2 linked regions of the Homo sapiens genome follow. The protein of the gene in region 1 purifies or fractionates together with the protein of each later gene. This does not show direct contact. Each region holds a gene or a part of one and is shown on either strand. Other genes may lie near its edges.

The links. Proteins that work in one complex are often made in the same cells at the same time.
Region 2: the proteins of SLC30A5 (region 1) and TMED7 purify together in Homo sapiens (affinity purification with mass spectrometry; 2 studies listed by BioGRID and IntAct, with this or other methods). This does not show direct contact.

Annotation. Positions count from the first base shown.
Region 1 is NC_000005.10:69,118,004-69,125,042, reverse strand, and holds part of SLC30A5 (proton-coupled zinc antiporter SLC30A5), read right to left. Parts: intron 6,545-7,039; coding exon 6,415-6,544; intron 3,350-6,414; coding exon 3,148-3,349; intron 1,845-3,147; coding exon 1,618-1,844; intron 1-1,617. UniProt on the Homo sapiens protein: Together with SLC30A6 forms a functional proton-coupled zinc ion antiporter mediating zinc entry into the lumen of organelles along the secretory pathway.
Region 2 is NC_000005.10:115,612,709-115,616,074, forward strand, and holds the end of TMED7 (transmembrane emp24 domain-containing protein 7 precursor), read right to left. Parts: 3' UTR 502-3,366; downstream 1-501. UniProt on the Homo sapiens protein: Potential role in vesicular protein trafficking, mainly in the early secretory pathway. Appears to play a role in the biosynthesis of secreted cargo including processing and post-translational modifications.

The sequences.
Region 1 (7,039 bases):
AAATGTTTTTTCCTGGTCTGCCTTTTATGTTTTATACTTGTTAATGAAATCTTCCACCAACTGGCAATTTTCAACTGGTCAAATTTGTAAATTTTATCCTCCCTTTTTGGCCTCTGGTTTCAAGTATATTAAAAAGTCTTTCCCTATCTTTGTGATTATAAACATATTTTTCTGGCGGGGTGCAGTGGCTCACACCTGTAATCCCAGCACTTTGGGAGGCCAAGGTGGGTGGATAGCTTGAGGTCAGGAGTTCAAGACCAGCCTGGCCAACATGGCGAAACCCCATCTCTACTAAAATACAAAAATTAGCTGGGTGTGGTAGGCCTGTAATCCCAGCAACTTGGGAGGCTGAGGCAGGAGAATCGCTTGAACCCGGGAGGTGGAGGTTGCAGTGAGCTGGGATTGCGCCCCTCCACTCCAGCCTGGCAACAGAGCAAGACTGTCTCAAAAAACAAACAAACAAAAATATTTCTCTATTTAGTAGTTTCATAATTTTTTTGTCATTTACATATTTAATCCACTGGAAATGTATTTTTATATAATATGGTATAGAGATATAGCTTTTTTTTCCCCACAAAGTAAAGAAGTAATTAACCAAAAGCTGGTTATTTAGGTCAACTATTTCTCCCCAGTGATCTAAAATACCATCTTTGCTATATACTGAATTCCATAAACTCCTGGGTCTGTTTCTGGACAACCTATTTTTATTTCTTCTTTTACATTACATACCATAATTCTTCATTTATTTTCATTTTTTATTATTTCTTCTTTTACAGACAACCTATTATTATTGTTACTATTTTTTTTTTTGTGCTGTCCAGGAAACAATCCCAGGTCACAAGAATGGGAACTTATTATTTTTTTAAAAGTTGATTTATGTCTTTATTCTTGTGCAAGGACCAAACTGTTAGGTTTTTTTTTTTTTTTTTTGAGGTGGAGTCTCGCTCTGTCACCCAGGCTGAAGTGTAGTGGCGTGGTCTCGGCTCACTGCAAGCTCTGCCTCCCGGGTTCACGCCATTCTCCTGCCTCAGCCTCCCGAGTAGCTGGGACTACAGGTGCCCGCCACCACGCCCGGCTAATTTTTTGTATTTTTAGTAGAGACGGGGTTTCACCTTGTTAGCCAGGATGGTCTCGATCTAAACTGTTAGTTTTGTCACTTAATTCTGCTACTTTATAATTGCAAAGTAGGATCCTATTAATTAATTCTGTAAGTTTATGTATGTTTTCTTATTCTCAAGCGCTAACTCTTCCAAGTAAGTTCCAAATAATTTTAGAACATCCCAAACCATAAACAAAAATATCCAATGAAGGCAACTAAATTGAAATCTAAATAAAATAAAATCAACATCATTATAATAAAGAGTCTTCTCATCCAAGAAAATCTCATCCATCTATTCGGTCCCTGTTTTATATCCTTTAAGTAAAACTGTATTTTTCTCATTTATATCTTGCATATTTCTTGTTAGGTCAACTTATTAAATTTTAAATGCTACTTTATATTTCTTTTTTGGCCTCGTTTTGTTTTATTATTTATTTGGTTGTCTGTTTTACTTCCAGCAAAGACTTCAAAAATGTGATTTTCAAGGAAGAAAGTAGTGAAGAAATTACATACAGTACCTTTTCTAAAGCAATATGTAGTTCTTTTTCATATTCTGGTGGCAATCTCAGGAGTAGAACCTGGCAGGCATCTTTAATCAGTGGAACAACACTGAGAAATATTAATATAGCAATAAAAAGAGAACAGAGTGGGTCAGCGATGAACCATCCAAACTGCTCTATAAGAACTGTGGATACGATCACACCAATGCTGCCAAGTGTATCTGCCAAAACATGTAGAAATACACCTACAAATAAAATATATAAGGACATTAAAAATTAAGGCACATCTAATTTAGTTTTTTAATACATTCTACTAATATTACTGGATACCTACTGTGCACCACATACTCTGCTACTGGCTAGTACTTCAAAATGCCTAAAACATGGTCACTGCCCTCAAGGAATTCAGAATACAGTGGTAAAAATATAAGGACATAGGCACTCATGACACAGCGTGCCAAATTTTATGGTGTACTTTGTCTGGAAAGGCTTCCCAAAAATCATACTTGAGGCAAGTTTTGACATTACCCACATTACTTATATTAAGCAATCAGAATAAACAATTCAGCAAAATAAATGATTAGTACTTCCTCCATTTTTTTTATAGTGCAATAAAAATTTCTAAAAAAGGAGTAAGAATTTCCTTTTTGTAATGAAGGTTCATAATAGCACACTGTGTTTACCTTGCAACTAATATCTATTCAGCTGTCACTATGAAAAGGACTATATAATTATAATCATTTAAAAACTAACATTTAAGAACAAATATATTTTCATTTTCTTTTTGTTTTGGATAGAGTCTCACTCTGTTGCCCAGGCTGGAGTAAAGTGGCGTAATCTTGGCTCACTGCAACCTCCATCTCCCAGGTTCAAGTGATTCTCGTGTCTCAGCCTCCTGAGTAGCTGAGACTACAGGCGCCTGCCACCACACCTGGCTAAGTTATGTATTTTTAGTAGAGACAGGGTTTCACCATGTTGGAGAGACTGGTCTCGAACTCCTGACCTCAGGTGATCCACCCACCTTGGCCTCCCAAAGTGCTAGGATTACAGATGTGAGCCACTGTTCCCAGCCTCATTTTCTTTTTAAAAAATTTTCTGTGACGGCCAGGCATGGTGGCTCACACCTGTAAGCGATTCTTCTGCCTCGGCCTCCTGAGTAGCTGGGATTACAAGCACCTGCCACCATGTCCGGCTAATTTTTGTATTTTTAGTAGGCACAGGGTTTCACCATATTGGCCAGGCTGGTCTTGAACTCCTGTCCTCAGGTGGTACTCCCGCCTCAGCCTCCCAAATTGCTGGGATTAACAGGCGTGAACCACCATGCTCCCAGCCAGAATGTCCCTCTTTTTAAAGGCTGAATAATATTTAATTTTATGTGTATTCAGGTAAGAATATTTTCTATAGTGATAGCTTCAGACCTTTCTTTTAGTCACAGATTGCTTTTTAAAAATCATATCATACCAGAAGCCCAAAACTTAATACAAATAAACACAGAGGGTTGATTTAGAACACAGTTGAAAAGTAGGATAATATTTTGCAAGGACTCACCCCTCATGTTAGCATTCATGCCTCCACCCGCAGATCCGTGGCTGTGACCATGCCCATGGTCACTGTGTCCATGCATATGGTGTGAATGGCTGTGATCAGATGAGTGACAGCTTCCTTGAGAAGCTCCATGGGCATGGCTATGGGCATGGCTAAAGGCACAGATACCAATAAGGTTTACTATCAGCCCTCCAACTGAGACTGGCTAGCAAAAGGGAGAAAAAAAACCTTTAAATTAGTAATTTAAAAATAGACTTGTTATTTAAAAGTTATTATATAGCTATATATGTTTTTCTGTTTACAGTTTTGAAAGTATTCACAGTAAAACCTTACTAAGTTTCAGTAAGTCCAAAATTTTAAAAATGTGAATTTTAGAACATTTTAGAAGAAACATTTTAACTTTCAAATATCAAGCAGAATTGGTAAGTAGAGGAATTTGGACTTATTTCAATTAAGAATGGTATGTACTTGGTTTATGGTTTATGTATAAATAAATGATGCAAAGTTTTGTTTTGTTTATTGAAGAGTTTGAAAGTACTGCTTACTAGGGCAAGTATACACTGTACCTGAAATCTTTATATTGCTAGGTAAATTTGAACAGTTTATATGCCAACAATTATAATTTATTAATGAGCAGATTCCAAATATGGTCTTATTATGTCTTAAACACAGTAAAATTTTCCAAAGTAAAACAAGTATAATAAAAAGGAAACATACAATAGTAATCTCGCATTTATTTAAATTAAAAACAAATTTTTTTCTTTGGTAGAGACAGGGTCTATGTTGCCCAGGCTGTCCTCAAACTCCTGGGCTCAAGCGATCTTCTCACCTTGGCCTCCAAAAGTGTTGGGATTATGGGATTACAGGCATGAGCCACTATGCCTGGCCTCTCATTTTTTTCTTAACAAAGTGAATGAAATTACTTTAATTTAATGGTGCCACAATAATACTCCAAAGGATAAACAAAGTTACTTATCCTTGATTATCTGCTCTTACAAAATGATCTTGAATAGTAGTAGCTCAGGGTGTTAATTTGCCTACATCTACAATTTAAAGCAATCCATTTGTTTTATAAAAGGAAAATATAAATATGAGAAGGACAAATACTTTTAATTACTTTTCAAAAGTAGTAAGAGATTTACTTTATTAAATGTGTAGGGAGGTTATTTACTTCTTCCTGATTCGGACCATTTGACTCCAGATTTTAAAATTTCATTAGGCTTTATAAGCTGGTAGATGGTTAATGACTTTGAATGAAACCAAGTACTGCTTACAGAGACTCCATCATCTCATAAGTACTCCTTCTCCCCTACTGAAAAATACTTCATCATTGTGTATTTTATCAGGAAAATAAAAATGTAGAAGATGAAAGTCCCCTATAATTCTACCACCAAGGGTTAGTCACGCTTAAAATGGTGTATTTTCCATCTGTGTACTAACATACATACACATAACACCCTTTAAAACCAACAATGTAATCATAATACTATTTTACAATTTTTTTTTTTTCATTTTGAGACAGAGTTTTGCTCTGTCAACCAGGCTGGAGTGCAGTGGCATGATCTCGGCTTATTGCAACCTCTGCCTCCCAGGTTCAAGCAATTCTCCTACCTCAGCCACCCAAGCAGCTGGGATTACAGGCGCCCGCCACCATGCATGGCCTGCAATTTGTTTTTCACTAGTACATCTCGTAAATATTTTCAGGCCAGTATATACAGATATATCTCATTCTTTTCAATAGCTCTGTAATATTCTATTATATAGATAACAAATTTATTTAATTACTTTTTTCACTGGTGGACAGTGAATTGTTTCCATTTTTTCACTATTATAAATAAGGGTACAATGAATCATGTACTACTTTTTTTTTTTTTTTTTTTTGAGGCAGAGTCTCTCTATCACCCAGGCTGGAGTACAGTTGGTGCAACCTGGGCTCACTGAAGCCTCTGCCTCGTGGTTGAAGTGATTCTCCTGCCTCAGCCTCCCAACTAGCTGGGATTACAGGTGTGCGCCATCATGCCCGGCTAATTTTTGTATTTTTAGTAGAGATGGGGTTTCACTATGTTGACCAGACTGGTCTCAAACTCCTGACCTCAGGTGATCCAACCACCTCGGCCTCCCAAAGTGCTGGGATTACAGGCGTGAGCCACTGCACCCGGCCAGAGTCATGTACTTCTATATGTTTGTGTGAATGTTTATGTATGATAAATAGTCAATATCAAAGGATACAGGCACTAAAAAATCCAAAAAAGTCTATTTTTCCAAACTGTATTATAGAAACATTTTACTCATGTATGCTTCCACCAGCAAGAGCCAGAGCTGCTTTTTGTCATTTAACAACTGATTTCCTACGACAAGCCAGGTGCTAGAACTGAACTTAAGAGTTAATAATATGTAATTCAGGTCCTGAAGATACTTACATATCTTAATTGTGGAAGAATGACAAATTAAACAACTGCAACTCAATGTTGCTAAAAGAAGAATGCACAAAACATAATGAGAATACTGAGAAAAGGAATCTAACAAACTTTGTGGAGAGAAGAGGGGGATTAAAAGAAAGTATTTCCAAAAATTAGGCAGGCGTGGTGGCAGGCGCCTGTAGTCCCAGCTACTCGGGAAGCTGAGACAGGAGAATTGCTTGAAAAAAAAGAAAAAAAGAAAAGAAAAAAAGTATTTCACATAAGCAAAATCTTGATGGAGGCTGAAGGGCAGAAGTAAGGAAAGGACATGCCAACTACAAGAAACAGCACATGTAAAGCTTTGGTGGTACAGGGAGAACATTAAAAGTTGCTATAGCTGGCCGGGCACAGTGGCTCATGCCTGTAATCCCAGCACTTTGGGATGCCAAGGTGGGAGGATTGCTTGAGGTCAGTAGTTCGAGACCAGCCTGGCCAACATGGCGAAACTCTATCTATACAAAATATACAAAATTTAGCAGGGGGTGGTGGCACATGCCTGTAATCCCAGCTACTCAGGAGGCTGAGGCACGAGAATCGCTTGAGCCTGAGAGGTGGAGGCTGCAGTGAGCTGAGATCATGCCACTGCACTCCAGCCTGGAAAACAGAGACTCTGTCTCAAAAAAAAAAAAAAAAAAAAAGAGAATTTCTAAGAGGGAGCAGTATAAATGTAAACAGCAAGATAGGAAGTTATGTTGATATAAGTAAAAAATAAAACCTTCTTAGAGCAATAACTGCAAACAATTAAACTTTAGGATAGAAAAAACTATGTAAGTATGACTAGAAATCCAAATAGGAAAATAAAAAGACTTACTGTTAACATGTGAGTGTCTAATTCTGGAGGATCAATCAATCTAGCCACTGACTCCATAAACACAAAAAACGCTATTACTATTAGAAAAAGTCCATTAATAAATCCAGACAGAATTTCTATTCGGCCGTACCTAAAAACATAGAACATTTTTCAGAAAAGGAAAAGGACAAATATTTTTAAAGTATAAACTTTATAAATGAGGAAACAAGTCCAAATTTTCATACTACTAAGTAATTAATAATAGAAAATTAGCAATATTTTAAATATCATATTAATGCCTGGAAGGTCCTTCATATATATATACATATATATATATACACATATATATACACGTTATATATGAATATATATACGTTATATATGAATATATAACATTTTAACGAATATATACATTTGTTAAAATGTTATATATTCATCAAAGTCCTTCTTTACTCTCTTTTTTTTTTTTTTTTGAGACAGAGTCTTGCTCTGTCACCCAGGCTGGAGTGCAGTGGCACGATCTTGGCTCACTGAAAGCTCCGCCTCCTGGGTTCACACCATTCTCCTGCTTCAGCCTCCCGAGTAGCTGGGACTACAGGTGCCTGCCACTACGCCCGGCTAATTTTTTTTGTATTTTTAGTAGAGA
Region 2 (3,366 bases), about 46 Mb from region 1:
TGGAAAACAGAAATATATAGTTAATAAAATCCAAAGTCACACAACCATGACTTGAACTTGGCTGTGACTCCAAAGCCAAAGCACTGAACTGCTACTGAGCTGTAGTGAAATCAAGATAGCTAAGCCTTCAGAGATCTATCCTTAATTGGTTTTTTGTAAGGCAATATTGCATAGTGCTTGAGAAAGAGGGCTCTGGAGCCAGACTGCTATGGTTCATATTCAAACTCTGCTAATATACTGTGTGATATGAGATTTCTTAACCCCTCTATTCCTCAGTTTCCTCATCTGTAAAATGGAAATAATACCTTTATTTCATAGAATCATTGCAAAGATTAAATGTGTCAATACAAATACTCAGCACAGCACCTAGCACAAGGTAGGCATTCAATAAATGTTAACCTATATTTATAGTTATTTCCCTGTTGTTTTTGGAGAATTATGCCCAGGAACCAGACTGTCCCCTCTGACTACATTATTAAGAAAAACACTGATACAACTGGGTAATATACAAACTAAAGGTAATTTACTTAAAAATTAAGACCTCTTTAGAGCAACTGATGATTTAACTGCTTTTCACCTACACAAACTTTCAGTAAGGAATGCAAAGAGAAGGTTACAAATTAGGCAGTACAGACGTGGTATTTCTCTTTCACCTTCTTTCTTGGACAGTCCCTCAGATATTTTAATAAAATACCAAATAAATAATCACTCTCATTACAGAACTGTACTCTAGGCTTTAAGTTTATAAGGAGCTTTAGAAAGATTTAAATCCTGACAGAAACAAGTAAAGTCAGTTTGTTGAAAGATTTTTTTTTATTCTACAAGAAATTGATAGGTGCAATCCTGTTAAAGAAATTTCTTTTCAAAAGTAAATGAAAAACCCCTCTGAATTATTTATATATTAATTTTTTGAAAACAATAGTCATAGGGCCTGCTTTGTCCTATTTAACTATAAATGTTACACATTTACAAACTGAAACAAAAATGCATAGTACAGAGATTTAAATGAAATCTTCGAAAGAATAAATTTGCTTTTCAGTCCACTGTATTTTCAAAATTGATTATCACCAAGCTTGGATGAAAGCTGTGAACCACAAACCATTTGTTTATTTAATAGAAAAAAGAATGTGTAGATTATTAGCAAAGTAATGCCTTAAAATGTATCTTCACACAGTTGAAATTTTAGTATAAACTTGTATATCAAGTTGCTTTCCATTATTTATTCTACTTTAAAAATATATACAACTATGATGTTCAAATATGTATTCTGAGCCATTATGTTCAAACATAAATATCTGGGAAATTCAAACTGCTGCAACAAGTTAGGAAAGGATTAAGGAAAAATGATGAGCTACAAATTATGTAGTTGGAGGAAGAAAAAAATGTTACTTAGCATTTATGTCTGGATAGGTATGTATTTTCTAATTTACATACACATATCCAGTTGAGTATAGACAACCATCAAAATGTAACCAGTTACACAGAGACTAGACTAAGCCAACACTATTTTCTATAACAGGTAACAGTAGTGATTTCAAAAATTTTAATATCTCAATAGTTTCACCAAAAATTATTTGTGGTAATATGCTAATATTCTGAAGTTTTGAGAGGCACAGATTAAATGAGTGCACTATCTATGCCAAACTCAGCAAGTCTATAACTTACTGTTTAATTATGGTGTAAGTATCTGAACACAATAGCATAGAGAGGCAACCAGAAAAGGACATTTTACATATGCCCATGCTGATCAATCACATTAACATCAGTGCTTACAACTTTCAAATTTAAATATAAAGGGACACTTGCAAAGCCGCAAGACAACTTCAGTACAAAAACCCAAATTGATAAATCTGCAAAATCTTAAACTTCTTAATCCATTGATAAATATTAAGGAGTAGCTGGTCTTCAAACACCGTAAAAAGTTAAAGGGTTGAAAACATGTTCACCCTTTGCTATACGGTGGCATCTGAAATTATCAGGCATGACAACTTGAATTTGTTTTGCTCTTCCATGCAAGAAGTATATATATGCATTTTAAGATAGCTTAGAATTAAGAGTTAACTTCTAGTCAGTATTGGTAAGTGACTAGGATGGCTATCCAATCAGTATTCTATGGTATCACATACCAAAGTCTCTACAATATGACAGTCTTGTCTTGTTCAGAACTCATCACTTTTGGGTAGGGAAGAGAGGCACGGCAGAAAAGCAGTTGCAATTAAAAAAAAAAAAAACAGCAGAAAAGCTTTAAATATCTATATAATTTTGAATCATCTTGTATTCTATCAGATAATACTTGGAACAAAATCTTATTTCAATCAGCTCAATCTATACAAGTTATAAGATGCAACACAATGTAAACCCTATAGTCTACAGAATATGCACTATTTAATACTCATTAACTAAAGAAAAGTCAATGAAGATTACCAAATAGGAAACACAAAGCATTCTAAATTTTTAAATCACTTTAGGGTAGCTAACCAGAAACTACAGAAATAAAATATGCACGACAAAAAAAAGAAAAAAGGAGAGCAACTAACTTTTCAGTGCATCACATCCATGAGGATAAAATGTATGGCACTTATGTGTGAGACTAATACTAACAATTGTTAATTTAAGCTGGGAATGACTCACAGACATTAAAGTCATATAAGGGCAAGAGCTAGCCAATTAAAATTTTAAAATTAAACATATCACCTTTTTTCCTTGTAAAAGCACTGAAAATGTAATGAGTACGTGTAACTCACTAAAAATTTTCCTATTTCATTTGCCCCCATTGTAGTGTCTTAAATTATTCTGTAATATTTCTACCTGTTACAAAGTCTGATATTTAAGGCCTGTATAAACTCTTTTACACTACTGAAACTACTGTTTTCTGTGTACTACAAATGCCTTTATGAAAAAATAGCATAGCTGGTTTAAATTATAAACCCCAAAAACAAAAGTCTGACATTTTCTAAGCTAGTGAGAAATCAATTTTACCATGATATATCAATATTAACTAACATTCCTATGGTAGATTTATTTTTCCTCCATAAAACTGAACAGTGCAGAATAGGGCTTGGGCTACAGTTCATCACATTTGGTTTTCTTATTAACAATTAAAAGGCAATTTTCTTCCTCCCTAACACATGTAGACATTAAATCTAAAGTTTTTAAAATATCAACTACCTATAAGAAAAGTAGTCTTAAATGGTTAAAAGGAATCAAAATACCAAAGTTTAGTGTGCGAAGAGTAGATATAAACAACTGCGAACAGAGTAGATCATTGGTGTTGAATATTTAACATGAATAGCCCAAAATGAGTTCCAAAGTTTTTCCACCTTTACAAATAAAAAAAGGTGTCCTTTCCACAGTTTGGGAATATGC